Homo sapiens: one gene and its partners. The protein of the gene in region 3 interacts with the protein of the main gene of each other region in a pairwise test. Each region holds a gene or a part of one and is shown on either strand. Other genes may lie near its edges.

Region 1 (7,578 bases), on a different chromosome or scaffold from region 3:
AGCTAAAAGGTGAGGAAGGAGGTAGAGAGGTCAGTGATGCAGGGCTTTATAGACCACAGCAAGTATAGAAGAGGTTTCCAGTGCAGACATAAAGACTGTAGGTTCAAATTCTGGCTCTGCTACATGTATTAAATTACTTATCTCTGTTTCCATTTGTATCAGTAAAAAAAGGAATATTAATAAGACTTCTCATGCAAGTTGTGACATTTAGTGAGTTAACATATAGCATTTATTATTTTTAAAGACTGTTTTCTGAATGCAAGGACATGCTATTGCAGGTTTTTAAGTGACATTGTCTACTTCCATCTTTTTAAAAAGATCATGTCCATTGCTTGGGAAAGCCTTGATGGTAATTAACAGGTTTCCAAGGTATTTTGAATGCTAAGCAGCTTTTGAACTTGCGGGTACAATCCAAACATGTCCATCTGAGAGAAAAATCAAAATCAGGTATAAATTTGCCCCCTAAAAATTAAATGATAGAAGACTAGAAAGTGAGGAGTGATTAGGAAATTAAATCAGGATGCTCATAATTTTCATAATGGTGAGACTTTTAAAACTTAATCATTGATTCTTTTTTTTTCTAGGTAATTTTTCTTTTTTTTTTTTTTAATATTTTTTTTATTATACTTTAAGTTTTAGGGTACATGGCACATTGTGCAGGTTAGTTACATATGTATACATGTGCCATGCTGGTGCGCTGCACCCACTAACTCGTCATCTAGCATTAGGTATATCTCCCAATGCTATCCCTCCCCCCTCCCCCCACCCCACCACAGTCCCCAGAGTGTGATGTTCCCCTTCCTGTGTCCATGTGATCTCATTGTTCAATTCCCACCTATGAGTGAGACTATGCGGTGTTTGGTTTTTTGTTCTTGCGATAGTTTACTGAGAATGATGATTTCCAATTTCATCCATGTCCCTACAAAGGACATGAACTCATCCTTTTTTATGGCTGCATAGTATCCCATGGTGTATATGTGCCACATTTTCTTAATCCAGTCTATCATTGTTGGACATTTGGGTTGGTTCCAAGTCTTTGCTATTGTGAATAGTGCCACAATAAACATACGTGTGCATGTGTCTTTATAGCAGCATGATTTATAGTCCTTTGGGTATATACCCAGTAATGGGATGGCTGGGTCAAATGGTATTTCTAGTTCTAGATCCCTGAGGAATCGCCACACTGTCTTCCACAATGGTTGAACTAGTTTACAGTCCCACCAACAGTGTAAAAGTGTTCCTATTTCTCCACATCCTCTCCAGCACCTGTTTCCTAACTTTTTAATGATTGCCATTCTAACTGGTGTGAGATGGTATCTCATTGTGGTTTTGATTTGCATTTCTCTGATGGCCAGTGATGATGAGCATTTTTTCATGTGTTTTTTGGCTGCATAAATGTCTTCTTTTGAGAAGTGTCTGTTCATGTCCTTCGCCCACTTTTTGATGGGGTTGTTTGTTTTTTTCTTGTAAATTTGTTTGAGTTCATTGTAGATTCTGGATATTAGCCCTTTGTCAGATGAGTAGGTTGTGAAAATTTTATCCCATTTTGTAGGTTGCCTGTTCACTCTGATGGTAGTTTCTTTTGCTGTGCAGAAGCTCTTTAATTAGGTATTGTTGGGACGTATTTCAAAATAATAAGAGCTATCTATGACAAACCCACAGCCAATATCATACTGAATGGGCAAAAACTGGAAGCATTCCCTTTGAAAACTGGCACAAGACAGGGATGCCCTCTCTCACCACTCCTATTCAACATAGTGTTGGAAGTTCTGGCCAGGGCAATTAGGCAGAAGAAGGAAATAAAGGGTATTCAATTAGGAAAAGAGGAAGTCAAATTGTCCCTGTTTGCAGACGACATGATTGTATATCTAGAAAACCCCATTGTCTCAGCCCAAAACCTCCTTAAGCTGATAAGCAACTTCAGCAAAGTCTCAGGATACAAAATCAATGTACAAAAATCACAAGCATTCTTATACACCAATAACAGACAAACAGAGAGCCAAATCATGAGTGAACTCCCATTCACAATTGCTTCAAAGAGAATAAAATACCTAGGAATCCAACTTACAAGGGATGTGAAGGACCTCTTCAAGGAGAACTACAAACCACTGCTCAATGAAATAAAAGAGGATACAAACAAATGGAAGAACATTCCATGCTCATGGGTAGGAATAATCAATATCGTGAAAATGGCCATACTGCCCAAGGTAATTTACAGATTCAATGCCATCCCCATCAAGCTACCAATGACTTTCTTCACAGAATTGGAAAAAACTACTTTAAAGTTCGTATGGAACCAAAAAAGAGTCTGCATCGCCAAGTCAATCCTAAGCCAAAAGAACAAAGCTGGAGGCATCACACTACCTGACTTCAAACTATACTACAAGGCTACAGTAACCAAAACAGCATGGTACTGGTACCAAAACAGAGATATAGATCAATGGAACAGAACAGAGCCCTCAGAAATAACACCGCATAGATCTGATCTTTGACAAACCTGAGAAAAACAGGCAATGGGGAAAGGATTCCCTATTTAATAAATGGTGCTGGGAAAACTGGCTAGCCATATGTAGAAAGCTGAAACTGGATCCCTTCCTTACACCTTATACAAAAATCAATTCAAGATGGATTAAAGACTTAAACGGTAGACCTAAAACCATAAAAACCCTAGAAGAAAACCTAGGCATCACCATTCAGGACATAGGCATGGGCAAGGACTTCATGTCTAAAACACCAAAAGCAATGGCAACAAAAGACAAAATTGACAAATGGGATCTAATCATTGATTCTTAATATGTAATTGGTTACGGTATACTGGTTACTGCTTTAGGCATGATAGGCAAATGCTGAATTCCCAAACGAAGCTGTCTCACTGAGTTTTAAATTAGGCCATATATGTAAAGTTAAAATATAAGGGAATGGAGTAGGCTAAGATTTTTTAAACAGTTTACAAAAAGCATTGCCATTAAAGAAACAATGATAAATTGAACTTTATTTAAATTGAGAACTTACCTTCATCAAAAGACAGCATTAAGAGTCAGGCATGGTGGCATATGCCCATAGTCCGAGCTACTCAGCAGGCTGAGGCAGGAGGACTGTTTGAGCCCAGGAGTTCAAGGTCAGCCTGGAAAACATAGTGAGAACTTGTCTCAACCAATCAATAATATACACATACATAAGACAATACGAAGAGAATGAAACATCACTGCATCCATATTACAATAACTAAAGTTAAAAGCATTTGACAGTGCCATTCTGAGGGAGGATATAAAGCAATTGAAACTCATATTTTGCTGATGGGAGTACAAATTGGTACAACTAATTTGGAAGACTATTAGCAGCATCTAAATCTAAATCAGCATCTATTATCATTGTACTAAATCTGAAAATAATGCATACCCTTTGGAGAAATTCTACTTTACACATGAATACCTAGGTCCATCAAAAGACATGTACAGGAATATCCATAGCAACAACTGTGGACAGTTAAATAAGTTACGGCATATGTATATAACAGAATATTTTATAGCAATAAAAAGCAATGAATTATATGCAACAGCAAGGTGAACTTCACTTACCAATTGTTGAGGAAAATAAGCCAGACAAAAAGTTTAAAAATAGGCAATTTACATTTTGATAAAGGTTGGATTAGTACTTACCTTTTGGGGAGGGGAAAAAATGGGAGGGAACACTGGGGGGTCTTCTAGATTTCTGCATTTGTTCTGTATTTTGTTCTTCACATTTTTTCAAGCTGAATACTTTGTATATATGCACTTTGTGTAATTTAAAACGTAATTAACAATTAAAATATAACTAATGTTTTAAATATAAAGAACATAAACAAGTACCTTTTTTAAGGTTTAGCTTTTAGTTTGTTTCTTCTTTTCTTTCTTTCTTTCTTGCATCTTTCATGGAGATAAAGAGGGTGAGCTGAAGAAAATTGGAACTTGGAACAGACAAGAATGCAGAAAGTGAGAGGACACAGAAAAAATAGTAAAATGGGCAAGAGACAGCCTTTAAGCATATGGGTTGGTAGAAAAATCTGAGAAGAAATGAAGTAGGGATAGTTAGATTAATAACAATGTGCAAACCATGAAAAAAGGTATTTTTTGCACTCTACAAATGTGGCACTACACACTATTCTAATTTTCTGTGTAGTAACCAGTTGACCAGCGCTTAGTAACAGTCCGTATTCTTAGGGGTTTGAATCCTGAAGTGGTTTCATTTGGTATGCTGACTGTCCTTGTTTCATATCCATCCTAGTTCTATGGGACGCCTTCTCCAAAATAAGCATACTGTAAAGGCTTATAGATAACTTAAACTAAAAGAGGAAATTTATAATTACTTTGAACAGTTTTAAAGAAAGTATCAGGCTAGATATTAGGACAATGCCAAAGTTCACTAACTAGCTTTTTGCAGGTTTAATAATGATATTGCTTTCCTTCCCATTATCAATCTATATTATATAGTTAAGTTGTTTTACTTCAAATGTCTCCAATCGACATTTCCTTTGTATGCATATACTGAAATGATATTTAATAAAAAAGAACATCTCCTGTGTGGAGTTTAAATTTCTCTTATTAAATATTTATATTTTCAAAATGTCTTTATTTAATTGAGTGAGGTGCTTGGTGCCATTTCAAAATAACCTCAGGTGGTAGGTGTAATGACATATCAAAGATTTGACCTTTAGCATTTTAGGATTCTATTTGTCTGCATTTTCTTCTGCATTCATTTAGTCTTAATTTATATGCTATTTCTCTGTATGACTTAATGAGTAGATGTATTCGTTAAGAGATTCATTAGCCAAAAAAAAATATACACATGTATATATGAATACATTTTATTTCTGTGCAATCTGACTAGTGATTTTAAATTCATTTATATCTCAACTGTGACAAGTAGAAGATCAAGTAGAAAATGCTATGTAGAAGGCTGGTCAGTGTTTGCATAAACCTCATCCATTCTCATTAAGTGCTTGGCAGAATAGACCCTCGATCTCCTAAACCAATGCCCATTCTCTTCTCACTTCTTTCAGCTTATTACATTCTTTTATTTGCCTAGAGATACTTTATTTTCCAGTTCTCTGCTATTCCTTTTAAAGAAAATTGAATGTAATATTTACACTGATATAATTAAATTAACATCTTGCAGCATCTTTTTGTATGCTTTGGTAGCATAATCATTTGTCTGGGTAGCTTTCAGCCTAGAAGCAGAGAAATTATCAATTATAATGTTGTGACATAAAAATTATTTTCATTTGCTCATTTAAGTATTTATTGATTTTTAGAACTAGAGATTCTAAATGGAGGTTTTTGTTAAATAGATCATAGATCACTCAGTTTACATTACTTATCTTTAAATTTTTTTTAATATTTTCTCAGTTTACACAAATCTTTATCTCAAGAAGAAAATCTGAAGGATCAGTTTAACTATACCCTTAGTACATATGAAGAAGCTTTAAAAAACAGAGAGAACATTGTTTCCATCACTCAACAACAAAATGAGGAACTGGCTACTCAACTGCAACAAGCTCTGACAGAGCGAGCAAATATGGAATTACAACTTCAACATGCCAGAGAGGCCTCCCAAGTGGCCAATGAAAAAGTTCAAAAGTAAGTTAAATGATCTTGTAATAATACTTCAAACACATGAAACAAAACAAAACACTTTCTTTTGGGAACTAAACAATATGTAGTTATTGATCATGTTAATAGTTTAGAACAAAAGTAGAATTAACCCAGTGAACTTTTTTAGATTGGATACCATATGCCATATTTGGGGTCAAAAAAGTCATTTTCTTGGGAACCATTGTTACCCTGTAGGGCAAACCATTTTTATTTAATAACTGATCATCAGTTCATGGAGGCCATACTATTTAAATCATTTCACAGTCACAAGTTAATAGGCAAAGTTATTAGCAAGGGGAAGAGGCAGTCAAGTTACCACCTGAACTAATTTAGCTTTACAATAATCCTGCTTGAGTTGAGATCATCTGTGACATTGCAACCTGAGACTTGTAGGTGCATAAAAACCAGTAGGGTGAAATTAATTTTCTTGTGTTGTTCTTCTGAAGTATTCAATACTGCTTTTCACAGTGCATAATTATATATGTTTATTTTGAATGATCTTTGCATTTTTATTAGAATTTAAATAAAGCTGCATAATCTGTCAGTCCTTTTGACAGCTAGCAAAATGTTAACAAACAGCTTACCAGGCAAAGAAGTCACTTGTTAATTTAATGGACTTGAACATTGTAGCAGAATTTTCTGAGACACCTTTAATGTAATAGAACCACTGTAATAGAATACATAGAACACATGTAATAGAATATATTTTAACCTTCTTTATGTATTGTTAACAGCACTACAGCATTCACATATCTAGTCACCTTCAATTTCAAAGATATACCTTTTTCCTTAACAATTTTTATGTCAGTTTTACACTGTGAAGCAGTGCTCACATCAAGGTTTCTTACTTCCCACTACTTCTTATTTGAAAATGTCATCTTGACCATTTCCTCAATATCCCTGAAGTTATATTTTGATTAATAGCCAAAGTTATGTAAGTCAGTAGTTTTAAATTAGACCATTTTAAAACAGTTTAGAAATTGTGCATTTTAATCTTTACTAGCCATGTACCTTGAAACTTTTGATTTATGTAGGTATTATATATATTTGTAAGTTTAAAGATGGGGTTTATATTCAGTCAGAAACTATATGCAGTTATTCACAATGTACGTTAATATTCTAAGAACACTATGATGTATAGGTAGATCTCATTTCATTATAAATCACAATCAGTAACTTTTGACAGGATCTGATTTGGCTCTGTTTGCTTAAAGTCTACAAATACATACAAATTTCAAATTTTTCTTTATATATAATCCATTAATTTCTATACATGACCAAAATTCCCTAAAACAGTGGTTCCCACAGACCAATTCTATTTTCAAAAAATCTTCGGATGTGTTATCAACCTTTTATTTTTTAGATCTCATCAACTATCATCATCATTTCATTTAAAAAAACAATTTTTATACACCAAGAAGTAGAAATAATATCATCTCAGATAATGTTTTAAATTAAATAACTTTACTGAATGGCCAAGATAACCAAATAGGAACAGCTCTAGTCTGCAGCTCCCAGTGTTGATCGACACAGAAGATGGGTGATTTCTGTATTTCCACCTGAGATACCTGGTTCATCTCGTTGGGACTGGTTGGACAGTGCATGCAGCCCACCGAGGGTGAGCCAAAGCAGGGCAGGGTGTCACCTCACCTGGGAAGCACAAGGTGTCGGGGGATTTCTTTTTCCTAGCCAAGGGAAGCCGTGACAGACTGTACCTGGAAAATCGGTACACTCCCACCCAAATACTGTGCTTTTCCCACAGTCTTACCAACCTGCAGACCAGGAGATTCTCTCTCATGCCTGGCTTGGTGGGTCCCACGCCCATGGAGCATGGCTCACTGCTAGCATGGCAGTCTGAGATCCACCTGTGAGGCTGCAGCCTGGCAGGGGGAGGGGCGTCTGCCATTGCTGAGGCTTGAAGGTAAACAGAGTGGCTGGGCAGCTCAAA
Region 2 (7,578 bases), on a different chromosome or scaffold from region 3:
TATTTTTAGTAGAGACGGGGCTTCACTATGTTGGCCAGGCTGGTCTCGAACTCCTGACCTCAGGTGATCTGCTCACCTCAGTCTCCCAAAGTGCTGAGATTACAGGCGTGAGCCACCGCACCCGGCCTATTTTCTTAATAGTACTAGACTCTACAAATTTCTGGTGCAGACCAGGCTGTGCTGAGGTCGTGAGCCCCATCTCCTTGGTCATGGTGCTTATGTCAGGCATGGGTACTCGGGAGCAGGGTCAATCTCGGGTGATCCTGGCAGCTATGCACAAAGAAGAGGGAGTTTGTTCCTCTGATAGATGGCCTTGCTGAGTGCTGTTTTGCCCCTGCAGGGTCCAGACCCACCTGTGAGGCAGACAGGATAGCAGAGGTAGGAGACAGAGACCGATTCCTGATGGCTTCTTTTGCTTAAGCCACTTTGAGTTGGATTTCTGTTACTTGCAACCATGCGCCCTGACTCGAGGAGAAAAGCTACCCACTATGTTGAAAATGCAGAATCATCACACAAATGGGCAAGTTCCACAGTCCGCAGTGTGATCCACCCCAAGGCCCAGGCGTCCACAGCAACCTATCTAGACTGGGACACCAAGGAGGAGAGCTGTCAAGTCAGAGGGGAGCAGAACTACCAGGGTCTGCACCCCATCAGCACCTGCAGCAGAGACAGACAGACTCTGGCGGATGCAGTGGCCAGTTCCCCGAAAGGAAGGGGGCTGTGCTGTGCAAGGCGGGTGAGTGCACCTCTACTGTGCCAGGCTTCCGTTCCCAAACCAGCCCTGCTCCCTCTGGCCTGACTGTAGGCTGACCAAGCGATCCTCTCATTGCCCATCTGTTCCCTCAGGCCCTGGATATGAAGCTAAGGAATAGGAGTGTCCTGGTCACTAGGAATGAACGTGCTTCCTGAATTAACTAAGAGCTCGCTGACACCCCATGTGGGTAGCAGAGATCAGTGCTGGGCCCCTCTGAGGCCGGGCTTCCTGAGAGCTCATCCGTGAACGGCGGACTGAGCTCCTAAATGGCCCACCCTCCGTTCGCCAAAAGGAGGTAGGTTTGGGGCCTGAGGGATGTGGTGGGTAGCCTGGTGTGCCTGCAGTGGCAGACAAGGGGAGTGGGGTTCTTACTGGCTGAGGTGCAGGCCCATTTCCTGGAGGGCTTGTTCCTGCTCCTCGCAGATCTTCTGCAGCTCTGCCTTCTCGTCCTGAAGCTCCCGCAACTCCTAAAATGAACAAACCAACCAGATGCTGGACAGAGGATTACACGGTCCTTTTTTTTTTTTTTTTTTTTTTTTTTGAGACAGGGTCTTGCTCTGTTGCCAGGCTGGAGTGCAGTGGCACGATCTTGGCTCACTGCAACCTCCGCCTCCTGGGTTCAAGCGATTCTCCTGCCTCAGCCTCCCAAGTAGCTGGGACTACAGGTGCCCGCCACCATGCCCTGCTAATTTTTGTATTTTCAGTAGAGACGGGGTTTCACCATGTTGGCCAGGATGGTCTCAAACTCCTGACCTCGTGATCTGCCCGCCTCGGCCTCCCAAAGTGCTGGGATTACAGGCGTGAGCCACTGCACTGGCCTTTAAAAAAAAAAAAAAGATTCAGCAACCAGAGCAACAAGCAGATCAGAATGTTTTTCAAGAGCAAAAGGTGGCCAGGCACAGTGGCTTATGCCTATACTTCCAGCACTTTGGGAGGCCAAGACAGGTGGATCACCTGAGGTCAGGAGTTTGAGGCCAACCCGGCCAACATGGTGCAACCCTGTCTCCACTAAAAATACAGAAATTAGCTGGGTGTGGTGGCAGGCACCTGTAATCCCAGCTACTTGGGAGGCTGAGGCAAGAGAACTGCTTGAACCCGGGAGGCGGAGGTTGCAGTGAGCCGAGATGGTGCTACTGTACTCCAGCCTGGGCGACAGAGCAAGACTCCATCTCAAACAAAACAAAACCAAAAAAAAGAGCAAAATGCAGTCCTGTATTAATGTCATTCAAGATTATTTCTTGCTAGCTTACTCTTGACACTGGGCAGCTAAAAGGCAAGCACTCGACGAGGGCTCTGCAGCTGGGGACAGAGACATGGGACAGGATAGTTACATTCATCAGCCACATTAAAAATAGTTACCCTCAGCTGGGCGCAGTGGCTCACACCTGTAATCCCAGCACTGGGAGGCTGAGGTGGGCGGATCACCTGAGGTCAGGCATTCAAGACCAGCCTGGCCAACATGGCAAAACCCCTCCTTTAGTTAAAAATACAAAAATTAGCAGGGCATGGTGGCACATGCCTGCAATCCCAACTACTCGGGAGGCTGAGGCAGGAGAATCGCTTGAACTGGGGAGGCGGAGGTTGCAGTGAGCCGAGATCACACCACTGCACTCCAGCCTGGGCAACAGAGCAAGACTCCGTCTCAAAAAAAAAAAAAAAAAAAAAAAAAAAAAAGTTACCATCATAGGACAAATGAGGCTTTGCCTATTTGAGCTTCTTTTTAAAAGATAAACATTTTACAAAACAGATTGCTATCTCAAAAAATCTATAGAAGAACTGTACACAAAATCACACGAACCTTGCATCAGCAAAGACTAGTTTGAAAGGTGGTTTCCTGTTCAATTCTGAAAAAGCTGCTTTTTTGGAAAGCACTGGTCAAGGATGATGAAGGGGGTGACCTGGGACCTCATTTCATGGCTAGACCACTTGGAGGCTGGCTAGACCATGTGAGGAGCCCTGCACGGAGGGAGTTCCCCAGGGGGCAACGGCACTGACACCTGGGGCCAGTGCACCTTGAGCCAGTCTGTTAAGGCCAGGATGGAGACCCAGAAAGTAACTGGGGTTTCTGGGACCACTGGGAGCAGCGGTGGAGCTCGGGCCCGAGTGGCGGGGTGGCTCTCTGCACACCCTGTGCCGTAGCTTCTGCTTCCATGCACAGGCTTGCAAAGCACAAAGCTGTGGCTTAACTGGGGTTATTAGACATTGTTTTGTTCCTATTGTTGGGGCGGGCTGTAATTGTGTAATTCGAATCTTTTGACAGAAGCATTCTGAAGCAGAATAAAGGAGGTATGCCCCGTGATGAGGCGGGACTTTCTGAAAGTCCTCTTCTGCCCTCCACTTCCTCCCTTCCACTCTCCAAGCCTGATCTGGCTCTTGAGGAAGCTCTCCCTTCCCCAACAACTCCAGGCACTTTCCAATGGAAATCAAAAGGGCCTTTCCTGACTCGCTCGAATCGTGCAGTGTGTCCATTACCACGTTCAACACAACAAAATCCAGGTCCAGAAGCCACCCTGGCCCTGAAGGCCCCTCCGGGGCAGGTGCCGAGGGGAGGTCTGCTTTGGGCTCAGTTTTCCTGCAGCGCTCGGCAGCGCAGGGGCCTGAGAAGAGGGCACGCCATCCCCACGTGGGAGGAGCCCCCCAGAGCGCCCCAGGCTGCAGTCAGCTCCATCCAGGATCGCAGAGCCTCCTCCCCTCTGGGAAAACAGCCGATGATTTTACATTAGGGCAAATGTTCCACACGGCCTCGGAGTTTCCTGGGAGGTCCAGTTCCACAGCCAGACAGTGAAGGCCTGCTGGACCCCACTTCTCTCGCCCTCTGAAGCCCACAGCATCCAGGCCATGCCTCCAAGTGAGAGGGTCCTCCATGGAACTGAGGTGATGTAGGGGAAGTGGAGGGCTGGGGTCGGTCTGCTTCCCAGGGATGACCCGACCCTGGGCACAGTGGCTGAGGTGAGGCTGGCATGTGGTAGGAGATGTTTACTGGTTCCTCCCAGCTTCCTCTCCTGCGAGCCTACCACCCACTCTCCACACAGGAGCCAATGACCATCCGCAAACAGAACGGATCCTGTCCCTCCACCAGCTGCCCACTCTGGTAAAATAAAACCCACGTTCCTTCCCCTGGCTCCCAGGGCCCATGAAGGGCTTCCTCCTGCCTGCCGCCTGAGGCCGCCTCTTTGCTCCTCACACTGCTGTCTGCTCCTGCAGTCTCCACCCAAGAGGTGCTTTGCAGGGCATAACTCACTGGAGCCTCTGCTCACCGGTCGCTCCCTCCCCAGGCCCCTTGCACACGGGTGAGGACACTGTTCTGCTTTATTCTCTTCATGGCACTTGCCTCTATCTGAGCTGCCAGCAGGCTTAGTGGTTTATGATTTGTCTTTGTCTTATGCTCCTAAAACAGGAGCTCCCTAACAGCCTCCCCACACCCTGGAGCCGCCTGGCCCCCACACAAAGGGTGCGGGGAGAGGAGCCTGCCCGGAGCATGTTAGGGGTTTCTGGAGGCTGCCAGAGGCTCTCCTCTCCCGGGATGGCCCACCTCACCTTTTTCAGTCCTTCCACTTGTTGCAGCTCCATCCTGAGTAGAGAGGAAGTGTCTTTCTCGTGCTGTAATTCGCGCTGAAGAGCCTGTCTTTGCTCTTTTTCTGATTTCAATTCTTTCTCCAGGCTTGAGCTGTTTTCCCAAAATGAACTTGAGTTAGTCTCAGTGGGAGACTTTCACGGAAGATTCACAACCCAATTCACCGCCCAGGAAACAGGGAAGTCTCTGAATTGCCTCTTGAGCATCTAAAGCCTTCGGCAACGCTTCCCTCTCCTCCAGGGTCACCTGCCCTTCCACAAGAAAGAGCAGGAACCAGGGAGAGAAAAGCCTGCAGGCACACACTTGACACTTACGCAGGGGAGAAGGAAGAGAGCTCTAGAACACTTAGACCACATAAGCAGAACCCTCCCGACATGGAGACCTGAGGAAAGGAAGCTCAAAATTCGTTCTTTTCTTTTTTTGAGACAGGGTCTAGCTCTGTCACCCCAGCTGGAGTGCAGTGGCGCAACCTCAGCTCACTGCAGCCTCGACCTCCTGGGCTCAAGTGATCCTCCCGCCACAGCTTCCCAAGGTGCAGAGATTACAGGCATGAGCCACCTCACTGGCCAATTCATTCTGCTTTTTGTTTTTTTTTGAGACGGAGTCTCGCTCTGTCGCCCAGGCTGGAGTGCAGTGGCACAATCTTGGCTCACTGCAACCTCTGCCTCCTGGGTTCAAGCTAGTCTCCTGCCTCAGCCTCCCTAGTAGCTGGGATTACAGGCACACGCCACCACGCCCAGCTAATTTTTTGTATTTTTAGTAGAGATGACGTTTCACCATGTTGGCCAGGCTGGTCTTGAACTCCTGACCTCGTGATCTCCCTGCCTCGGCCTCCCAAAAGTGCTGGGATTATGGGCGTGAGCCACCGCGCCCGGCCTCATTCTGCTTTCTACAACCTACAGCCAGACTGACAATGAAGGATCCTGGAGGGAGAAGGCCAGGAGGGAGCCTCAGCCTGAAGCTGACTCTGCCCTTTACCAGCTGAGTGGCCCTGGGGGCACTGCTGGACCGCCTGGAGTCTGCTCTCTCTTTGTGGGAATAAAGATGTCTCTTCTCTCTTCTCTCAACATCAGGCTTTTAACTTGGCATATATATTATCTCAAAAAATCTATAGGCCAGGCACGGTGGTTCACACTTGTAATCCTAGCATTCTGGGAGGCCGAGACGGGTGGATCACTTGAGGCCAGAAGATTGAGACCAGCCTGGCCAACATGGCAAAACCCTGTCTCTAATAAAAATACAAAAATTAGGCTGGGCGCAGTGGCTCACGCCTGTAATCCCAGCACTTTGGGAGGCCGAGATGGGAGGATCACGAGGTGAGGAGATCGAGACCATCCTGGGTTAACACAGTGAAACCCCGTCTCTACTAAAAATACAAAAAATTAGCCAGGTGTGGTGGCTGATGCCTGTAGTCCCAGCTGCTCGGGAGGCTGAGGCAGGAGAATGGCGTGAACCCGGGAGGCAGAGGTTGCAGTGAGCCGAGATCGCGCCACCGCACTCCAGCCTGGGCAAGAGAGTGAGACTCGGTCTCAAAAAAAAAACAAAACAAAACACAAACACAAAAATTAGCCGGGTGTGTTGATGTACACCTGTAGTCCCAGCTACTCAGGAGGCTGAGGCACAAGAATCGCTTGAGCCCAGGAGGTGGGGGTTGCAGTGAGCTGAGACTGCACCACTGCACTCCAGCCTGGATGACAGAGTGAGACTTAAAAAATAAAAAATCTGTAGATGAACTGTGCACAAAATTATATGAAGCTTGCATCAGCAAAGGCTAGGTGAAAGGTGACTTTCTGTTCAACACTGACAAAGCTGTTTCTTTTTAGAAAGGGTGGTTAAGGGTGATACAGGCTGTGACCTGGTACCATGGTTTGAGAGTGGCCAGATCTTCTGGAGGCGAGCTGGACCACGTGAGGAGCCCTGTGGGGAGGGAGCTCCCTAGGGATAACATACGAACCCTGCAGGGGTGAGTGGTGAAGCAGGATACCACCTGCCCCCCCGCCCCCCCTCCTCCCGTTCGTGCTGAAGCAGGATACCACCTGTCCCCAGTTCTTCCCAGTCCCTCCTGAGCCACACCCCAGCCCAGGCTCCCTGCAGGGCCCCTACCATTGCTCGTGCAGCTGGGAGAGCTGCAGCTGCAGGGCGCCGATCCTCCCGCCCAGCTCCTGCTGCAGCTTGTGGCTCCGCTCCTCAGCCCCCTGCCTCGCCCGCTCCGAGTGCTGCAACCTGGATGCGACACCAGCAAGAGTGCAAATGAAGCAAATCTTTGTAAGGAAAGGATGACTTTTGCTGGCTGAAATTCATTTTTAAAATTACCATACAGTAAAATTAACTCTTGTGAGTTTTAACACGTGGAGATTCAGCTCCACCACAATCAGAATACAGGACGGTCCCACCACTCCCAAAACTCCCCACCTCAGCCCCTGGCAACCACTCATCTGTCCTGCAACAATATGGCTTTGGCTTTTTGAGAATGTAATCTCAATGTAATTATACATTATATAACCTTGAGACTGACTTTTTCTCAGAATAATGTCTTGGAGATCAATCCAAGTTTCCATGTGTATCAATGGTTCATGCCTTTTGTTTCCTCTCTGAACGTCCTGAAAGGGCAGTGGTTCATTCCTTTCTACGGCTGAGTCATACTTCACCGCACAGACGTACCACTTTGTTTATCCATCACCCAATGCAGAACATTGGGATTGCTTCTAGCTTTTGGCAGTTATGAACGGAGCTGCTATAAACATATGTACTAGTTTTGGTGTAGACATAAGTTTCATTTCTATTTGGATCATATGGTAAGAGGACGTTTAGCTTCTTGAGAAACTGTTTTCCTGAGTGGTTGCACCATTTTGCATTCCTACCAATAAAGTATGAGAGATCCATTAGCTCCGTGTCCTCATCAGCACTTGGTATTGTCATTAAAGAAACGGTAGCTGGCCAGGTGTGGTGGCTCATGCCTATAATCCCAGCACTTTGGGAGGCCTAGGTGGGCAGATCACCTGAGGTCGGGAGTTCGAGACCAGCCTGATCAATATGGAGAAACCCCATCTCTACAAAAATACAAAATTAGCCGGGCATGGTGGCAGGCACCTGTAATCCCAGCTACTTGGGAGGCTGAGGCAGGAGAATTGCTTGAACCTGGGAGGTAGAGATTGCGGTGAGCTGAGATCGCACCATTGCACTCTAGCCTGGGCAATGAGAGCGAAACTCTGGCTCAAAAAAAAAAAAAAACAAGAACAAACAAACAAAA
Region 3 (7,578 bases):
AGGCAGGAGAATAGCTTGAACCCGGGAGGCAGAGGTTGCAGTTAGCTGAGATCGTGCCATTGCACTCCAGCTTGGGCAACAAGAGCGAAACTCCATCTCAAAAAAAAAAAAAAAAAAAAAAACCAACTCTAATTAGAGGGTTAGTAATACTGAGCCTTCTATTACTGTTTGGGATAGTGGCGGCCCTTCTGGCCCTAGAGCTCATGTATTTTATTGTTTTGCTAAGTCTCTCTCTGTTGATAAATAGAAAAAGCTTTTTTATTTTTTAGATTTTTATTTTCAATTTTCATGGTTGCATAATATGTAAAAGGCTTTTTTTAACCCTTGCCTGTAGAGTTATGTAAATTACATTCTGTTACCTCATCCTGATTTCACAATAATGTCCAGTGGATTTAAGTTCTGACTTTACTGTTTTATTAACTCACAATGGGTGCATTTTCTCAGAGAATCCTAAACAGATACGCCAGAAATCTCCCAAGCTTTGGAGCACATTAGATGATGCACTTTGGCATTGCATTACCTTTTAGTTTATGCTAAAACGATTAGGATGGTGCTCCCCAGATAACGTCCTTGTTCCCAGGATGGGGAGGGAGGCGTCCCAGCAGCTTGCCTAGGCATAGCAAAGCTGGCATGGCATGACCTCTTAGAGAGTTGAGGATTGATTAAATTTGTGTTTCCCAGGCTCCATTCTTGGCTACCCAGAGAAGGCTGCTTGGCCAAAGAGTGTTAATGAATGCCTGCTTGTTGCCCTCATTATTTGCTCTGTTCCAGTAAGTTGTCGTTTCCATTCATGTTGGAAAGTATTTGGGGAAGTTGCACTCATCAGGTCTTAAAAGCTCTTAGCTTTCTATCATCTTGACAAATGAAAGCAAGCCCTTTAAGTGAAGTGGATGGATTGGAAAACTTCCCAGTGTGATTGTCTATGGCAACTGTGAATTAAGCTGGGATGGGAATTAAGCTCTTTAATATCTCAGCAGCTTTTCAAGGACAGGGCATGGAGCCCTTTGTAAGCAGGACAGTCTCCTGTATTACACTGTCTATTTACCAAGCCATGTTGCCCTCAAAGTCACGATAAGGACAAATCTCAGCATATGCCATTTGCTTTATGCCCTGGGCCAGGTTAATTGGTGTTTCTTTTGTAGAAGATGAATGAAAATAATGTGCTTTAGAGTTCTGCAACAGCTAATTATCTCAAGGTTTCCAGCTATAGAATTTTTTGCTCGAGAGATCACCAAGGTGATGATGGATGTTTTGGTGTGCAGTGCCTTTGTGATTTTTTTTTTTTTAATTTGACCTTAGAATAAGTACTTTTTTTTTCTTTTTCTTTTTCTTTTTTTTTTTTTAAGACAGTCTCACTTTGTTGCTCAGGCTGGAGTGCAGTGGTGTGATCTCGGCCCGCTGCAGCGTCTGCCTCTTGGGTTCAAGCAATTCTCGTGACTCAGCCTCCTGAGTAGCTGGGATTACAGAATTGCATCACCACGCCTGGCTGATTTTTGTATTTTTAGTAGACGAGGTTTTGCCATGTTGGCCAGGCTGGTCTTGAACTCCTGGCCTCATGTGATCTGCGCACTTCAGCCTCCCAAGAAGTGTTGGGGTTACAGGCATGAGCCACCGTGCCCGGCCAGAAAATGTACATGTATTTTATATTGTAGTATCTGACTCTGTTTTTATATTCTCTATGACAGCTGGCAATGTTAGGAAGATTAGAATTCATTTTTGAGTTAGCAAAAATTTTTTAACCTGAAGATTTGTTTTATGTGGGGAAGATTAAACTAGCAGAATCTTAGAATTGGATGAACATTTGGTCATGATTGCCCTCCCAGTGATGGGTCACAGCTCTTTTCCAGTGCGTTATCAGTGGGTTTCCACAGCAGGGAGGATCTCAACCAGGAGGCAAGTCAGAAACTGGAGGTGGGATTTGTGGAGTTTGGAAAGGCTGCTGGGAATTTCTGATTACTCCCTTCCCCTACAGGAGAATCCCAGTTCTAGAAGTAGTAGACTTGGTCTTTATGGACCGTAGGAAGGAGCCAGTCTTTCAAGTTCATTGTGGTTGCCTCATTTGTCTTTAACAGTGGCTCGTGAAATAGACATGTGGAAGGTACTGTAAGGGTGATTAGGCTGTGTTTGTAGGAGTCACTGAAAACAAAGCATATATAAGGGAGGAGGAAGGCAGGGTAAGGGGTGCTCAAGCTATGGAGACTTGCCACTAACTGCCCCTTGGAAGAGGCCCTGGCCATGTTCTCTGTTGCCAGGAGATACTCAGTCTCTATTGTGGTTGCATTGGGACTGAGACAGATTTTCATGTGTGTGTGTTTAATATAACACTTAACAGTTTTATTGTTTTGTTTTTCCTGATTGTGAGGGTATTTCACAGTTATTGTAGAGATATTGGAAATTTTAGGTTAAAAATCTCACTGCCCTGATATAAATACTCTTTTTGGTAATTTTTTTCCATCTTTTTTATGTGAAAAATGTGTGCACATGCACACGTGCACACACACACGTGTTTTTTTAAAAAACAATACTAAAATTAGGATCTTTTTTTGTTTTAAGGATTTTTTTTTCCTTTGTCTTAGATGTTTTATGTGCTCATTTAAAAAAATTCAAAGACTAACATTTTGGCCTGTATATTTGTATATTGTGGATTTTTGTGTATATTTTTAAGTTACTATATATAGCTCTACGACATCCTCTCTTCCCCCAGGTTTTTATTTGAAAAGATTTCATTGTGAAAGAAAATTGTTAAGAGACTAACAATAAACATCTGTTTATTTATAAATGCTTTTACCCCAAATTCCACCAGCTGTTCTCATTTTATCACATTTGCACATACCCATCTTCTCTCTATCCCCACTCACATCTCTTATTTTTTCTTCCTGAACCATTTGAAAGTAAAGTAGCGTGAGTCTTCATTGACACTTCACCCCTAAATATTTTAGCATGTAGCTCCTAAAAACAAAAACATTCTTTTATCTAACCATAGCACCATTATCATGCTACCTGATGTTACTACAGTAATATCATCTGATATCTAGTCTATATTCAGATTTTGCTAGTTGTCACCAAAATGACCATTATAGCTCTTTCCCCTCCGGCCAAAAAGGATTCAGTAAGGATCATATATAGCATTTGGTTAACTTACTGCTTTTGTTTCTTTAATCTAGTTTAGTTCTCAATTGGGGAACAATTTTGCTCCCTCAGGGACATTTGGCAATATCTGGAGACATTTTTGGTTATCACAACTGGAGGATTATTCTGGTGGTTCCAGTGGGTTGAGACCAGTGATGCTGTGAAACACCTTCGTTCACAGGACAGCCCCCAACCACAAAGAATTATCTGTCTCAAAATGTCAGCAGTGTTAACACTGAGAAACCCTCATCCAGAATAACTCTCTTGCTTTTTTACTTTTTCATGACATCGACATCTTTTTGAAGAGTCCAATCTGGTTTCCTGCAGTATGTCTCACAGTCTGGATTTATCTAATTGTTCCCTTGTTATTTAGATCAGTGGTTCTCAAACTTTGCCGTACGTTAGAATAGAAGCTTTTAAAAATCCAAATGCCCAGGTCACATCCCAGTACCAATTAAATCGCAGTGTCTGGGATGGGGACCAAACCTAAGTATTAATAAAAAAAATAAAAAAACAACCAGCTAGGTGATTTCAATGTGCAGCAGTTTGGGGATGACTGATTTAGAATAAATATCTTTTGATAAGAATTCTACTTAGGGAATATTACGTACTTTCTACCTCATCTCATCAGAAGGCACGTAATGTCACTTTGTCTCATTCTTGGTGATGCCAAATCACTAAAATCACTTAGTGTGTGTATGTAATTAATAAGTAACGTGTGAGGTAAACATCACATTGTTTTTAATGGCTACATAGTATTACATTGGTTAATTAAGCTAGCTTCCTTTTAGTGGGCATATAGGGGTTTTTTTTCTGTTTTCTGCTGTTGTATATAATAATACGCAAAACATCCATATGCATATGTTTTGATGAAATACTTACCTAGTTATTTTCTTGGGATAGATTTTGAAAGGAAAACTCGTTAGCACAGAGGCTGTACACAGTTAAAAATGTGTCATGCGTTGCCACTTATTTGCTCCTTTGCATCTTTTCCATATCTTCTCCTGAATTCATAGACAAAGTAATTTATGCTCCATTCACCTATTTCTCCAAAGCTCCATAGACTGAATTATTGCTACTGATGTGATAGTCAAAATGATACCTCATTGTTTGGATGTCTTTTCTTGCTTTTTTGTGTCTTCTATAACTTTCAATGGAATGTAGAGGCTGAAGTAAATAATACTTATGTCCGGCCGCACCCCTTCCGTAGGCCACTGGTGTGGGTGCTATCAATCTAGTCAGGATTTGATTGTTACTGTAGATACCTTCCCAACACCACAGACCTCAAATTCCTCCAGCAGACAGTGGGCTTGGTGTAGGGTCTCGGGTGCTGGAGGGTTTTTCTCAGTGTCCTGATTGCTCAGCTGTCACTGAGGCCTTGACACGTGTGCCAGAGGAGGGTCTCACTCCACACTCAGACCCCTCCTCACAGGAGGCCTCTTGTTTCTCCTTGCAAGGCATGAAGTCGGGGGGAGGGGGTTCTCCTGGTCCAGCTCAATTTTTGGCAGGCCCTTTTTATTCCAAGCTTTGGGGGTGAGGTTTTCTCAGGGTTCCTGCCCCGCTACCTCCGTGGCAGCCAGACTCCACCTTTTATCTGTGAGGGATCTTTGTGGTGAAGTGTATACAGCTTCTTCCCTAATCGAACTCTGCTTGTATCAGTGCAGGAACTTGGGCTGAACAGGTTTCTTACCCCTTCCTCTGGGGCAGAATGCTTTTTACTGGGTACAAGTCTTGTGTGGGGGACAAATGGAAGGGTGGGGGTTTACTGCCCTTCCCTTAAGGGCAGACAACTTTTGCTTCTACTCACCCTCCCCCTCAAGTGGTTTGCCTTTGCCTGCCTGCGATTAGGGGTGGGGGACAGGGTGGCTCCTTTCTTCTCCCCCGTGTGCTTCACGTTTTTACCATGGGTTTCACGATAATGGGCCTGGGAAGTAGGTGGGCTTTCATGTCCCTACCACCAGTGGGGTCTCCCTCGGGTCTTCTGCTTTCTCCAGGGCTCCCAGTGCAGGCCTCTGGAACAAGCTCATGAGTGGATGTGAACTAAAGGAGCATCCAGGGATCCCTGGGGTCCTGAAGTCAGGCAAGCCTATTCTTGCCCTTTAAGAATGTGTTAGAAGTGTATCTATTTTCTTACTACCCACTTTTTTGGCAGAGGCCATCTTTCTCCTGTGCTCTGCCTAAGGTGCAGTAGTTCCTGTGTCCCGTTTTTCCTCAGAAGGGCTACTCTTTGGAACTCAGTCCATGGTGAGCTGAAGCTGGCTCACACTGGCTCATGAGACCTGGCTGCACATCTCTGGGTCAGCAGCATGACATTGGTAGCTTGAAACTGACAAATCCTTCAAATTAGCACCCTCCCTTTCTCCCACTGAGGACCAATTATTAAACATACACCAGCTCACCACCTAATTCAGGTTACCTGATTGCTTCATGATGGTAGCTCTTTGGGCTCAAGAAAAGGAACATTTTTGTATAATAGATTATCTGACTTTTTCTTATTGGTATAGGAGCAATATTCTCGAGTTTTATACATTCTAAGCAGAAGTAGAACTCAGTGTTGTTTTTGTTTTGAGAACTAGTGAGGTAGAACAGTTTATTCAAGTTCATTAGCCGTTAGAATTCCTTCTTTATGGAAAGGATGTTGAAAGGTGAACCACATAATAGATCACAGTCATGGTTTGGGAAAGGAAGGTCTCCAGAGAGATCAGGATGAGCTGTGAGGGAAAAAGACAAGGAAAACTTACCTTCTGTGAAAGAAATAAAATCCCCAAGGGAGTCTAACGTCTTCAGTGTATGAGAGAAACTTAACAGGAAAAATCAGAAGCTTGTCAACATATAAAATCTTTTGTTATGGAATCCCACAGGGGAACGGTTGACGTCAGCCTGACTGAACCATACTGCAAGTCAGTCCCTTGGGTGTACACCACCCCCCACCACAGGGCGGCACTGTGCAGCTGGGAAAGAGATGGAAATGCATACGCTGTTGAAACTAATTGCTTTCTCATGATGCCTAGTGGGTCCTTGGGCAGGGTTTTGTAAATGGATGAACTTGGGACGTCTGCCATGGAGTTAACATGTATCCAGAGTGGCAAGAAAAGACTAATGGGAGTGTATTTACAATCTGTACAACTTATTTTATGTACTGGGTCTGACCTTGTCTCCATTCTTTTTTGCCTGATTATAATAAGGCTAATGTTCCATTTTAAGTGCCTGCTTTTTAAGTTTTCTGTGACAGATTTTTAAATCCTGGTCTACTATTCTTTCCCATGATACCTCAGCCTACCCAGTGTAGGATCAAGAAATGTGTATTTATTTTATCATTTTCTTAAGCCAAATATTAGGAATTCGAATATGTTGTCATAAAAAGAATTCAAATATGTTGCCACCTCAAGTTAGAATAACTTTTGTTCTGTTACTTGTGCCACTGTTTTTCTCCATTAGCAGGAAGCAACAAGCATGAACTATGCCTCTGTACAACTCCTAGGTAGTTTTTCTAGAACTTGTTTCTCAAGTTGACATAGCTCTTTCTTTCCAATTCTGACAGGTATACAATAAAAGGCATCAGGAACCTGATTTTCTATGAACTGCCGACATATCCACACTTTTACAGTGAAATCTGTAATATGCTGAGAGCCACCAACAGAGGAGAAGAGGCCACGTGGACCTGCACTGTTCTCTACTCCAAATATGATGCCCAGAGGTTAGCTGCCGTGGTTGGTGTGGAGCGGGCGGCACAGATGCTACAGTCCAACAAGAATGTCCACCTCTTCATTACTGGAGAAAAATGAAATTTTGTTGGGCAGGAAGTGGTATTTGGCATGATACATAATGTTTGATTCTATGCCATTTGGACCCAATTCTGATTACTTACAGAAGAAGGACTGATACAAAGAAAGTGCATGAGGCAATGTCAGTATTATCTGACATCTTTCTTTTCAGGTCATGTGTCCCTGAAAAGTTAAATGTAAACCAGATTTTGGTAAATCCCATCTTTCAGAAGTGAAGAGGGGGCTAGAAGGACTCTGAGAAGTTGGTAGAAGAAAACTCCCACTTGTGAATATTTTTGTGAGACATAAATTCTTTTATTACGATTTACCTCTAATTTATTACACTTAGTAAATTCTTCCAGATTTTTCTATTTGTTTGACACTTCCTTAAAGTAAGGAATACACATTGCTTGCGAGAACTGGTTATGAGACATTGGAATACTTCTTGCTGCTACATGTCATCTTAATTTTGGATGGCATGGGTTTTGTAAAACTTATTCTGCCCCAGCCAAACTTTTTTGAAACCTTAAATAGTCTACCTTAATTCAGCCTAGAAGAGTACATTGATTTACTGATCTTTTTTCATATTCATAATACTAAATGTTTTAGTTTTGTTCAAATATATGCTTAAAATCACGTTATTTAAAAAACACATCAGCTCTGTCTCAAGAAGTAATTTTGTTGA
Region 4 (7,578 bases), on a different chromosome or scaffold from region 3:
GCCTGTATTCCCAGCACTTTGGGAGGCCAAAGTGGGCAGATCACTTGTGGTCAGGAGTTTTTGAGACCAGCCTGGCCAACATATAGTGAAACCCTCTACTAAAAATACAAAATACAAAAATTAGCTGGGTGCAGTGGTGCACGCCAGTAGTCCCAGCTACCTGGGAAGCTGAGGCAGGAGAACGCTTGAATCTGGGAGGCGGAGGTTTCAGTGAGCCAAAATCATGCAACTGCACTCCAGCCTTGGTGACACAGGGAGACTCTGTCTCTCAAAAAACATAAATAAATAAATAAATAAATAAATAATAAATTACACTATTCCCAACGACAGAATTAGGAAGTTATAGAGAAGCAAATTTTGGCTACATTTAAAATGACTACCTAATAATCAGTCATCCTACACTGGAAGCTGCTTAGGGAAGTCTTTACAAGCAGTCAAAAAATCAAGCTGAGGCTAAGACCATCTATCTGGCATTTGGTAGAAAGTACACAGCACCGGAAAACTGATATGAATAACCTCAATAGTCTTTTCCAAGTTTAAGGAGGATTGCCATGACCAAGAGTTATTTCATATTTGTCACTTCATTTTCATAATAATTCTATAAAATCAACACAATATTTTAATGAGGAAACTGAGGACAAGAGCTTAATTTGATCATGGACTACAGGGGGTAGGTGGCACAGCTTATTTTTAAATTTTAAATTCATTATGTTTGACTCAATTTAGGCTCTTTCCAATATAGTAATATTTGCTGATCTCAGCCTTAACTCATAAAATTACCTGTAGAACTTTAAAAAAAATTCCACATCCAAACCACATTCCATACCAATTAAATTGGAATCCACAGAAGAGAGACCCTTTACGGCATGTAATGCTCCCAAGTGATACCAACGTGCATACCCATGATTAAGAACCACTGCTATATACGAAGGGTTGGCAAGTTTTACTGGAACACACCTACCTTCATTTGTTTACATAGTACAAATGACTGCTTTCATGTCACAAGTGGCAGAGTTGATGAGCTGACTTTTATGACCAACAAAGGTGAAAGTCTTTTTTTTTTTTACTGTTTTAGCCCTTTACAGTAAAAATTTACCAGTCCTTGGTTCTATATCATATTATATACCCTAACCATAATGCTCTTTTGAGACCCATTTATTTTTTCCACCAAATAACACTGGTGGCATGGATAGAACCAAATTTGTGAGTTAAGCAAGGTTCGGATACCAAACTGGTATCAATGAAATGAAAATAATCCTTTTTAAGAGACGGCTGGGCACGGTGGCTCACCCATGTAATCCCAACATGTTGGGAGGCCAAGGTGGGTGGACTTGAGGTCACGAGTTCGAGACCAGCTTGGCCAACATGGTGAGACCCCCGTCTCTAGTAATAATAAAAAAATTAGCCAGGTGTGGTGGCATGTGCCTGTAATCCCAGCTACTTGGGAGGCTGAGGTAGGAGAATCGCTTGAACCCAGGAGGCAGTGGTTGCAGTGAACCAAGACTGTGCCACTGCACTCCAGCCTGGGCAACAGAGTGAGACTCCGTTTAAAAACAAACAAACAAAACAGATGTAAGAGATAAAGCATATTAGACCACCAATTAATTTATAATAGAACTAGTCCATTAACACAACCATGGCTAGGAGATACTTGATAAAAATTGCTAGTAATGTCATCTTTGAAAGTATGCATTGTGGTTCATTATTAATGCTTTTCTTTAAATCACTCCAATTATATGTGGCATTAATTTTTTAAATGAGGTTACTGCTGACTAGTTACCATCAAACAACCGCTACACCCAAAAGATGTTATTTATTCCTTTAAGGAAAAGTGTGTGTATTTAAAAACACTACAGGGTTCCCACCATACTGTTAAACAGAAATAATCCATACAGCACAAAGACAACGTAGCTCTAATGAGAAATCTGTCAAGGTCTTCTACATTAAGACAAAACAAAGTGCTAGCTAAGGAGTCTATCTACCCTTAATACTTCATTTAACTAAATTGTCTCAGGGATTTTATTGTTAAAACTTGATATAAAGTACAAGGAAAAAGATATATAGTATTCGTTATATATACACACTTGATTTTTCACACAGTAAAAATTTCACACACACACACACACATACATACACAAAATTCCTATCACTGAAAGCTAACCCAAATCTAAAAAGCCAGAGGAACATTTCACAGGATTACTATGGCATTTTGCCCTCTGGCAACTAAAAACAGTGATTCCTTTAACAGAAAATACTCCATCCTCAGATGACCACCATCGTATAAATCAGACACTGAACAGTTACAGTGCTTTGAAGTGAAAAAAACAAGCATTAAATAATGTATGACAGTGGTGGACAAGCCTCAGGCATGCATAGGAAACCTCAAACCCACTGAGCTTCTTCAAATAAAGATATGCACAGCCAGATTAAACTAAAGACTTAACAATGGTCTTCTCGTTTTAAAAAAATTCCCACTGTAAATGTGATTCTCTAAGATTCCTACGGAACTTTTGGAGAGAAATATATTGAAGAGAAAGGCCTCAGAGGCTTTGCAATGAATGCAAAGGTGAATGAAAATCAGGTGACAGTGGACAAACAAAATAGCTTCTATGGTGAGAACAGAACAGTACCTGCTCTAGGCCAGGTGTGGTGGCTCATGTCTGTAATCCCAGCACTTTGGGAGGCCGAGGCAAGCAGATCACCTGAGGTCAGGGGTTCCATACCAGCCTGGACAACATGGTGAAACCCCATCTCTACTAAAAATACAAAATTAGCTGGGTGTGGTGGCACGCACCTGCAGTCCCAGCTACTCAGGAGGCTGAGGCAGGAGAATCGTTTGAACCTGGGAGGCGGAGTTTGCAGTGAGACTCCAGCCTGGGCTATAGAGTGAGACTCCGACTCAAAAAAATAAATAAACAAAAAATAACAGAAGAACAGTAGCCCTAAACAAACTAGAATACCATAATCTCATAATTGGCAAAATTCTTTGAAACACTTAAATATGTTTTAACAGCCAAAAATAAAATAAAAAAGGTTAAGGGGGTCTCTGAAACGACAGTGATTATATATTACAACTAAAGATTCTATCTTTCCCAACACTGGGTATAAAATAGTGAGCACAGAGGCTAAAAATGAGGAAAGTCAAAGACCCGTACATGCAGCAGAGTCCACGTTCCTTGACAATATATGCAATACCTGGCTATTAATACATCTTTTGATAAACCCACATATATATGTGTTGAAAAAAGACAAAGAAAATATACCAAATATGTTATGCATTTGAATGACGTTCCCCCTTCTTTTGTAAACAACTTTAGTATTACTTTATAACTAAAATAATTCAATTAAAAATATACTTCAAGATTATATCCAACTAGAATTAGGATGAACAAGGAAGTATCCTTGTATAGATAATATTTACCTGGTTCTTCCTTGATGAGTAGTGTATTTTCTTCTGGATAGGCAACAGGTGGCTGCATTACTGAGCAATCTTCTAAATTCGTTTCATTATTAGGTGGAATATTATAAATAAATCTTTTTGTAGTTTGGTTTTTCCTCCTTGTTTTGCCAGTCTCTTGAATTCCCTGGGAGCCCATATTATTCCAAATAAACACTTTTGTTTGACCTTCAGATTCATTTTCAGCCATTTCAGGAGATCCATCCTGGACCCAACTACTGTCATTCATTTGGTAGTTTTCTATTTGGCCCTCGTCGACATTACAACCATCATTTTCAATCTTTACATTACTTGCCAAATTGGTAAGATTCCGTGTTGCCCAAAAACTGGCAATTTTTTGATCCCGTGATGAAGACAGACCATCTCTATTAACTGGTTTTCTATTATTATAGTCCACAACTACAGACTCTGGAGCTTCTGATTTAATGCTTATATTTAAGGCATCTTTAATGAAATTTCGGCAAGTTTGAACAACTTCACTCATTTGAAGATAGCTGGCCACGGTCATAACTTCAATGGCATTTTGGCTTGTGAGCACCAGGTTACCAGAATACAAGAAGTCCAAGATGACTGAAAAACCTTGAACTGCAGCAATATCTAAGTGGGTAGTATTGTTTTGGTTAGGGCTTTCTTTGTTTGAAAAGCAATATAAAGTCTTAAAGAAACGGCTGCCTGCAACCAGGATGTTCTTATGAGCTTTGAAGATTTTTCCGCTTACCACAATGCTGACATCACAAAGAATACCTTTCTTTCTCTGTTCATTTAGTTGTCGCAGAAGTTGATAGCAATAAGAGTTCTCATTTGGCCTACTATTAAAGTCACAGTACCCCTCCTCTGATGGTATTTCTGACTCCTGTAATTGGATAAAAAACATTAATATTAAACTTTATTGACTTTTTTAAAAACTCCCAAACCAAGGAAAACAATTATCAAGTTTTTAAAAAGCGATAATCAAATATATTAATTTGTGAGTAATCAAGAAATGGAGTGAACAGTGGTGGTGCAACCCACTGCTATTATTAAAAAAGAAAAAAATCAAACACATCTGACTGAAGATCAGCAGGGTTTCATTTTAAAAATAACATTCATCATGTTATATGTTTCAAATATAAGCTAAGAACATGAATTGAGAATTTCTTAAAATTAAAATTAAAAAGAGCAATTATTTTCTTAAGAAAAGAAACTTTCTCTTATAGGAATTAAATGTTTGCTTTATCTCTATAGAAAAGCAACAGTCTCCCCCGATTGAACTTAAAATATCCAAGTTATATTTTATGCTAGGCATATCACCCTATCTACCATTAATAAAAAGGTAAATTTTAAGTCTTGGCAAACATTAAAATCAAACAGTTTAGGTCAATGAAGTTAATTAAATCTAACTAGAGATAAAGGTAAGACCCTAAGGGGAAAATTTGCTTCAACTATAGGAATATCTAGTTATATAATTTCCTATCAACTTTCAAAACGCTTTATCTCTTTAGGGTCATAAGTACTATAAACTGTAAGGTAAATTAAAATTCCTGAATTCAAAATTCTAAATGTTTATAAATTTTGCTTCTTATCATACAGGTATTCATTATAGTTCTACTTGGCGTCACAATTAAAATTATGTGATATAATCGTAAGAATAAAAGTATGATCCAGAATTCAGAATGCTGTCTGTATCAGCCATTAACTGCGTGTCCTTGGAAAGTCACTATCCCTGAGCCTTTTCCTTAAACGATAAGTCAGTATTACAAATGTTAGTTAAAACTTTATGACTTTCCTCATACAGTGACTAGGTGGGTAAGCTCCCTCAAGGCAGAGCTGAATATCCCTCCAGCACTTTGATTAGTGCCTGCCACACTTTGCTAAACAAATGAAGTAATCATCTCTTTCCCAAGAGAAAAATTGCTTAGACCATTTCTAGTAGAAAAGATAACTGAAAATACTGACCTTATTCAAGTGTCAATTCTTTGGCACAAAATATTAAGTTAAACATAGACCATTTCTATAAAATAATAAAATATATACACATATGTATGGATCTATGATTTTACGAGCATGGAGAAAAACATGGAGAAATAAACACTAGAGTGTAAACAGGCTCAAAGTACTGACATGCTTAGAAGAGAGTTAGTGGTGTAGAGATGACGAGACTGCAAAAGTAGTCTCACAAACAATATCCTAAATGGTGGATCCCTAAACAATCACGAAACATGACTTAATGCAATCATGTGCATGGCTAAATCATAAAAATTTTAGCTTTACTTGGGTGCATGTCACAGGAGGCCACAGACGCTGTCATCTCAATTCTCTGAAACTAACCCAGTCCATCTAAAAATTATAGTGCTGCTCCCAGGTATGAGAAGTCAACTGAAAGAACCCAAATAATATTCCAGGACATGGCCAGGCATGGTGGCTCACGCCTGTAATCCCAGCACTGAAAGGCTGAGGTGGGTAGATCATTTGAGGTCAGGAGTTCAAGACCAGCCTGGCCAATGTGGTGAAACCCCGTCTCTACTAAAAATACAAACATTAGCTGGGCAGTAGTGGGGCACGCCTGTAATGTCAGCTACTTGGGAGGCTGAGGCAGAGGTTGTGGTGAGCCAAGATCATGCCACTGCACTCCAGTCTGGGCAACAGACTGAGACCTGTCTCAAAAAAAAAAAAAAAAAAAAAAAGATTCCAGGACACACTTCAACTGTTTCACTGTGAAAATGGAATAGTATGAAAAACTCTACGAATCTGGAGTATATGATCACTACAGAATGAAGCACACAAAGTAGAGAAATTTCCTCATTTTTGACTGATCCTTGGCAACCTTCCCATACCCTTCTTGTGCCAAGTGCATAAAGCCCTTATACCAAAAAACTCCCACCCATGCCCCCCCCCACCATATAATAATGTTCCATGCTCTAAATTAGCTATTTTCTCCTCCTACCAAAAGATCCAATTCTGCAAAAACTGTTAAGTCACGGATAGAGGAATCAAAACAAGTCCATTCATGAGTAATACCCTTATTTTTGTTTTTGGGGAACTGGAGAAAGGAAATAAGGTAATAATGAGACTTATTTAACCTAAGCTCTTGTATTAAACCAGTATGTTGTATTGGATTACTGCAAATATTTGGTTAAAAGAAAAAAAAAACCAGTATGTTGTGAAATTTCGTATCATGTAGCAAAGAGGAATGAACAATTTAGGACTTGTGTGAAAATGTAAAGAATGATACTAAAAACACCTGTAACAATTACTTGGACAGTGTAACTTTCCACAAAAGCATCATTCTGTTTACTTGGTTTCCCTTTTGAGACTGAGTAAATTTTATTAATTTGCCTATGCTCTCTATAGAAATTACAAATAAGGGGGAAGAATCTTGCTTTGATACAGGCCCAACACTAAAAGCTTTGTTACACAAGCTGTACCTGAACCCAAGCTCATTTGGTTCAGTGTTCAATCTACTATATATTATAGTAAAAGCATGAATATTGTATGAATATTTGGAAGAAGCAAAAGTTTTCAACACTAAATATCTGGCAGCATATATCTATGAACTGTTTGTGGAAGCAGTGAATTAGCATGTACAAGTCAAGAACTGCCTAAAGTCCGTATATCAAGCAGTTGAAAACACTTCAGGAGGTGGCTATGCCTACTGTAGCAGTCATAACACGCTATGGTCACTGCACCCTGAATTTTCTGGGCCAGTGCCAATTGTTAAGATTCTCTGCCTTTATCATACCAAATGTCCTAATTTTTATAACTAAGACAAAAGCCTATCCACCAAAATATCTGCCCATTCTACTTTGACACAAACTGTACAAATTAAACACCATTCAACCACTATTTTTTTTTCTCATTACTATGGTACAAGAACAAGAACATTAATGTCCCTTGTTTTTATAACCAACAACAGCAATTTCTTGTTCACCACTGATTAAAGCACTATTCCATATGTTTGCAGCAGCTATTAAATATGCCCTTCAAAAAAAAAAAAAAAAGAAACCACATAAATAAATATGACCTTCAAAAAAAATGAATCATTTCCAAGAGTATGTGTACTCTCTAAGGAGATCATTATTAGAGGATTTGGGTTAAAGAGCTAAATAAGCACAAAGCACTAAAATAAACTGCCAATATCATTT

The links.
Region 1: the proteins of UTP25 (region 3) and MIPOL1 interact in binary tests that used the Homo sapiens proteins (3 or more experiments, as listed by UniProt).
Region 2: the proteins of UTP25 (region 3) and RUFY1 interact in binary tests that used the Homo sapiens proteins (3 or more experiments, as listed by UniProt).
Region 4: the proteins of UTP25 (region 3) and ZBTB10 interact in binary tests that used the Homo sapiens proteins (3 or more experiments, as listed by UniProt).

What each region holds. Positions count from the first base shown.
Region 1 is NC_000014.9:37,494,524-37,502,101, forward strand, and holds part of MIPOL1 (mirror-image polydactyly gene 1 protein), read left to right. Parts: intron 1-5,384; coding exon 5,385-5,615; intron 5,616-7,578.
Region 2 is NC_000005.10:179,595,535-179,603,112, reverse strand, and holds part of RUFY1 (RUN and FYVE domain-containing protein 1), read right to left. Parts: intron 7,210-7,578; exon of another isoform or gene 6,552-7,209; coding exon 6,432-6,551; intron 6,292-6,431; exon of another isoform or gene 6,152-6,291; intron 4,861-6,151; exon of another isoform or gene 4,758-4,860; intron 4,422-4,757; coding exon 4,292-4,421; intron 3,846-4,291; exon of another isoform or gene 3,724-3,845; intron 3,629-3,723; exon of another isoform or gene 3,478-3,628; intron 3,041-3,477; exon of another isoform or gene 3,015-3,040; intron 1,222-3,014; coding exon 1,127-1,221; intron 1,050-1,126; exon of another isoform or gene 847-1,049; intron 737-846; exon of another isoform or gene 341-736; intron 1-340. UniProt on the Homo sapiens protein: Activating adapter involved in cargo sorting from early/recycling endosomes. Regulates retrieval of proteins from endosomes to the trans-Golgi network through interaction with the dynein-dynactin complex.
Region 3 is NC_000001.11:209,844,534-209,852,111, forward strand, and holds part of UTP25 (U3 small nucleolar RNA-associated protein 25 homolog), read left to right. Parts: intron 1-6,670; coding exon 6,671-6,914; 3' UTR 6,915-7,578. UniProt on the Homo sapiens protein: Component of the ribosomal small subunit processome for the biogenesis of ribosomes, functions in pre-ribosomal RNA (pre-rRNA) processing. Essential for embryonic development in part through the regulation of p53 pathway.
Region 4 is NC_000008.11:80,496,226-80,503,803, reverse strand, and holds part of ZBTB10 (zinc finger and BTB domain-containing protein 10), read right to left. Parts: intron 4,311-7,578; coding exon 3,422-4,310; intron 1-3,421. UniProt on the Homo sapiens protein: May be involved in transcriptional regulation.